Regions from separate parts of the Homo sapiens genome. Here region 1 is linked to region 2. The links come from fine-mapping of genetic effects on gene expression. A gene starts in region 2. The other region holds a variant in brackets. All regions are shown on one strand. Distances are between the middles of the regions.

Region 1 (2,910 bases), 280 kb after region 2:
CTATTTTTTACTGCCTTTATCAGAACTCTCAAAACAAAGTGTCTCCCTCAGGACAATTGTACTTCTTCCACCTGAGGTTGAGATGTGTTTGCCTTTCCCAATCTGAGAGATCTATATCTGTTTTATCTCCTAAACTTTGATGAATGAATGAATGATTTATAAACCAAAGGGATGAGGCTAAGCCATGTGCTCTGTATTATAACAACTCTTGGCTTGAGGCTTTCTCTATGTAATAACCATGCCAAAGACGTATATTTATTGGTTTGTTTATTGAAATTTTTCTTATATATCTTTTATTTATTAATTAGAAGTTTTCAAAGAAAGCTGGAAATTGTCTTTATCACTGGCCATTAGACAGAACATTTAGTATGGCTAATGCTGCTTCACCATAGACACACAAATGCCCCCAAATTCCCTAAAACCATGTTCAGCTCCATTTATTTAACAAATCAGAACAAGATTCAGTAGAACTCTCTGCTCCTCTTCTTTTGGGAACATCAAATGCTCAGGGTGTGTCCTCATCACTGCTCATGTACAGATTCATTGTGACACTTTAGGCATGAGTGATTAGGCCTTGGAGAAATGAATTGCTTAACCAAATGCATAGGAAATTGGTGATTAAAATACGATATTAAATTTAAATTTGATAGTTAGCAAGGTAACTGCCAGGTAGTCAAAAATACTCTCGCCTACCGGGCGCAGTGGCTCACGCCTGTAATCCCAGCACTTTGAGAGGCTGAGGCGGGCAGATTGCCTGAGATATGGAGTTTAAGACCAGCCTGGCCAACATGGTGAAACCCTGTCTCTACTAAAAATACAAAAATTAGCTGGGCGTGGTGGTGGGTGCCTGTAATCCCAGCTACTATGGAGGCTGAGGCAGGAGAATCGCTTGAACCTGGGAGGTGGGGGTTGCAGTGAGCCGAGATCGCGCCACTGCGCTCCAGCCTGGGCTACAGAGTTAGATTCCATCTCAAAAAAAAAAAAAAAAAAAAAAAAAAAAAAAGTCTTGCCTGCATGTTGCCCCTGTCCCAACCTGGGGACACAGCAGGAGGACCAAAAGACCTGAGTGTCAGCTCAGGGGTCCTGGGCAATGTTGACAACACATTGAGAAACTCCCAGCACTTGCCTTTCCCATTTCTAGGCATCTGGCACATCCCTCCCTGCTGACTTCCAAAATCATCTAAGATCAGTTTGATCAATTGTGTCACAATTCATCTTGTATTTACCACATTTTTTCCCTTTTGTGGAAGTTGGAAATATACGTTAGTTTAGGTATTCTTAAAATTTTTGTGTTGGGACCTCTTGGACTCTCTGATGAGGGCTGTCTCCCAGCTGAGCATGTAAGCTCACATTCCCTAGGCCCGCCCTTGCCCCCAGCATTGGCACCCACTCCAGAGAGCCCATCTGCAGAGTCCTGCAACCCCAGCCAGTCTTAGCTCTTTCCATACACTGTGGCAAGA[T/TATC]ATTTATCATTGGTAAGTAGTTCATAAATTCCTTGCATATTAAAATGTCAATCATTTACTTTATCAGTTTAAGCTGAAATTTACTTGCTTTTCTCAAGACGATTAAAGCTAGTGAGAAATATTTGAATGGTAATACTTCATTTTTAATATTGGGCAATTTAAAATTGATAACATGGTTATTAATGTGGTGAGTTCATGAGTGGAAACAGTGTAGTTTGTTGTAATATTTATGCTTTTTTAATGCTTTCCTCTAGCTTGCCAGCTCTAACACTAGAAGCAGCCTCAGGAAGAAGAGGGTTAGAAGGTGGCTTTGGCCAAGGTCTTACCCATGATACAATTAGCTAATGTTTCATGAGAGTTTACCTTGTTCCAGGCACTGTGCCTCACCAGTTTCCATGCCTTATTTCATGTTATCCTTATAACAGCTGATGATCTGGGTACCATTAACATAAGCGCCACTGAGCAAGGATTTTTATTTTGTTTGCATGTGATCCTCACCCCAATTAGACTGCCTGGTTGATGTAGGTATCATCTATACATTGTTGTTGAATAAATGAATCATCCCAATGGAAAGGAGGCTTAGAGAGTTTAAGTGACTTACTGAAAGCTAAACAACTTGTAAGTGCTATAATCAAGTCCAAATCCAGATTCAAGTCTTTAACCTGTAGGTTGCACTTCCTTCTCTAACTAGACAAGAAGAGCAATGGCCCCACCTCTTACTTCTGTGGTTCTTCAGTTTCCCCTGGCCTTTAATGCATTCTGTGCCTTTTGATCCTCATGGTCATTAGAACAGGTGTGGTCACCCACGGTGAGGAATCTGAGGGTGGGGAAGTTAAGAAATGATTGGCAGCCTGGTAGTGCACACAGTTGGAACTAAGTGAGGCAAAGTGCCTGCAGCTTCATAAGATGATAAGGTTCCAGTAGTGGAGTTCAATCTGCTTTAGCTCTGAAATAACAATACCAATCATCACAATGGCCAAACAATGTTCATTTGATTTCTCTGCCCATAAATCTTCTTGCTCATCAGTCTCTCAATTTTCACACTGTTAAGGTTCTTCTTATGTGACAAACTGACCACACCCATTGTCCTGCATTCACCTACATGCTAATAACTCCCAATCTCGATCCCTAGACTTCTCCCTTGAGGAGCAAACCTATATTCCTTAGTGTGCAGGAGAAGCCCGTGGATGTCTCTTATCTGAGTGGCGTGTAGTCATTGCAACTTATCCTACTTCTGAGGAACTTATTACATCTGGTCTTTTGCCCTGTCACCAAGTTTATACCCATCCAGCACACACTAATTCGACTCATCCCAACCTCATCCAGCCAGGCTTCCAAGATAACACCTCACAATCATCTTTACCAATTCTCTGCTCATCCAAATAGTTGCCAAGTCCTGCTCAGGTCACTTTCCAATACCATCCCCACCTCTGCACCTCCGGGGCCACTG
Region 2 (2,910 bases):
GTTTTAACCCTAAATTTGCAGCGCATATATATATATATATATATATATATATACATACACACACACACATATATACATATGTGTATGTATATACATATACATCATATATATATAGCACTTCACTTTATTGGAATTCTTCCTTGGTCATAAATTATATTTCAAGTTGGCAAAAAATGTTGATCAGAATTTCAAAAAAGGGAAGCATCAAAGTAACCAGCATGGGGTTTTTCAAGTGTGCAGAAAGTTCTCTAAATACAAAATGTGCTTCCAGCCCACCAAAGACCCCCCTCACCCAAGCAGGCAGTCCTCGGCGAGGAGGGTCAGCATGCCCCTTTATGGTCAGAACGGCAGTGGTGCAAAAGACAATGATTTCAACCAAATATGGTTTGCCTCTCGCCAAATTTTTCGCATGTCCAATAAAAATAAGTTCACAAAAATCCAGCCAAGCATTACTTTCCCCCCAAAAGTGCTTCTCAGATTACAAAACAGCTTTGAAAGTTCAGCCTGACAAAACAAATATGGTACTAGGAGGAGAGACCTGGAAGGCAATCACAAAAAGTCTCATTTAAATTCCTGGAAAGCACAGCTTCTCCAAACACAGCTATTCAGCTCTTTGGAAGGCAGCACTTGCGGGAGCCATTGAGTTTAACTTCACTCAGTCCCCCAACACAGAACCGGCAAATCCGAATGAGATGGACGTCACACTCCCTACTCAAAAGAATGCATCAAATATCCACTCCGTAACACCGCGGAAAGTAAACCCAAAAGCGGAGTTTGCCGCCTGCCAACTACATAAGAATTAACACTCGGGTATTTAGGATTCTAAAGATCCCTACTACCCCAAACATTATAGCCACAGAGAACCAGAAATGAACAGAACACACTTTAACCTTTAAGAAGTGCAGTTTTGTACGGGGGTTGGCTGAAGAAAGACAAAAATCTTCACTCCCTTCCAGAGCCAAAAGAGCCAAAATAAAAGATCACCTTTACTGAGCCACAGGGGCACAACTGTATCCGCCCGTCCCCAAAGCGCAAGCCGTCCTCCCGTTCGCTTCTCCAGAATTTCCTGCTTTTCCCCAAACCACCTTCAACATTCCCCACACACGGGTCTCGCTCCTAAACACGGAGTGTAACTCCGCGCACAGCAGCGCGGAGGCTGCAGCGCCACCAAGAAAGGCGTCGCCAACCCTTACCCAGTGCCCTCCCTTACCAGCCTTCTTCCCACGCCGCGCCTCGAAGCGCACGACACCGTGGTGCTCGGTGCTCCCCCTGGCAGCGCGGCACTGGAGTCCAAGGCGTGCGTGTCACATTTTATTCCCCGGCAGCCGCTCGGGTGCGCGCGCTACGCGCTCCCACACTCACGCTGGCGCCCGCTAGAGCTGGGACCCTGGCCGGGGTCCCCGACTCACGCCGCGGAACTTGGGGGCTGCAGAAGGCGAGTGCGCGGCGGGAGTCGTCCTGCCGCAGGCTCGAGTCCTCCTCCTGCCACCGTGGGGTCTCGGAGCTGCCCCGCGCTCCCGTCCCAGGCGGCCTGCGGGATCACCTCTCCGGGGCCAGCGCTGCTCCGCGCCGGCGGCAGCTGCAAGCGCGGGCGGCGGGGCACAGCGGGTGGCTCGGCCTCAAAGCCGGCGGGAGGCTACGCTCAGCCCCGCGCTGCACGCCTCATTGTTTCGGGCAGCGCGGCGGCGGCTCCCGCGGCCAGAGGAACCGCGGCCCCGAGCCCCGGGGAGAGGCGGCGGTTCCCGGCCCACGCACCGAGGCTGCGCCGCGCCCCGCCCCCGAGCTCCGCTCGCCCCAGAGCCCCCTCCCTCTCCGCGATCCCTTTCATCCTTCCCGCTCCAGGCTCACCTAGCTGGCGGGAGCCGGGCACTGGGAAGTTGGGCTGCCCCCTCCCCGCGCCCCCGGCCCGGCAGCTCGGCCCGCCGGCGAGCGCAGGCGGGGCGCTCCCTGGCTGCGCGCGGATTTCTGCTTGTCGCGGAGAGTGACTGCAGACTTGGGCTGCGTGGGGCGGTGCGGGGCAGCACGGCTGCCTAAAAAGGCGTGTTTCTCCCCGGCCGCCGCCTCCATCCAGCCCTAGTTCTTCCGAAGGTTACCTGCACAGTACCCGCCTGGCACCGCGCCTGGACACCTCCGGGGCACTCGGGTCCCGGGCGGCGGCAGGAATGCAGGAATGCGCACAGGCTGTGGGCGGCCAGGAGGGAGTCCCGGCGCCTGCCCCGGCGGAAGTGAGTCTTTGTGTACCCTGTCCAACACCTCCCCCCGCCAGCGCGGAAGGCCGGGCTACCTGCGCGCCTGGCAGCGCCTGGCAGCCGGCTGGGTGGGGCGCAGGGGAGCGCAGCATCCTCCCCGGCTCGCTAGCTCCCTTTGTTCATCTCGCTCAACCAGGCTCCGCACTGCCGCCTGGCCCTCGCTCCCAGAGCTTCTCTAAGGATATGGGATGGACTTGGGAGCGGGCCACCTTTCATTTGGGAAGGGTAGCTCGCCAAGTCCGGTGACGGTGCTCCCTGGAGACCCCCACCTGCCCGCCCCTCCACACTGCCGGTCCCCAACCCCAAGAGGGACGGAAAGTTCTTGGGGTAGAAGCCGGCGGGACAAGTGGTTGAAGCAGCCTCCGGAGCCAGTGGGCGGCTGCGAGCTGGGCAGCTGGAGCCTGCGGGCGGGGCCGCGGGGAGGTGCCCATCGAGTGTCGGTCTGGTCGCGTGCGGAATGTCCACTTGTCACCGCGGCCCTTGCGTTTTCTCGAGACGGCGGCAGCTGGTCCTAGGACCCCAAACCGCGCCGCCCTTTGTTTGCTGGTAAATACTCTCCTGTGAACTTCAGCGTGTCTCTCCGCGCGCACTCCTGGCATTGGGTGCCCCACCCCGCTGGTTCTCTCGCGGACCCAAAGAGCTGTTCAGGTGTAGGGGAATC

The links. PIP is the estimated chance that this variant, and not a neighbour inherited with it, causes the effect.
Region 1: its variant is fine-mapped to the expression of ST6GAL2 in sun-exposed skin (GTEx, PIP 0.99).

The regions. Positions count from the first base shown.
Region 1 is chr2:107,163,675-107,166,584 of GRCh38, forward strand. No RefSeq gene overlaps it. Among named protein-coding and RNA genes, the nearest start is that of LINC01789, 200 kb to the right of the region's middle. The variant T/TATC (reference allele first, on the strand shown) is at 1,461.
Region 2 is chr2:106,884,883-106,887,792 of GRCh38, forward strand. It overlaps ST6GAL2 (ST6 beta-galactoside alpha-2,6-sialyltransferase 2), which reads right to left and starts at 1,285. Exons shown (of 6, transcript NM_001142351.2): 1 at 1,211-1,285. LOC124907864 (a long non-coding RNA gene) reads left to right here and starts at 1,651. Exons shown (of 2, transcript XR_007087169.1): 1 at 1,651-2,225.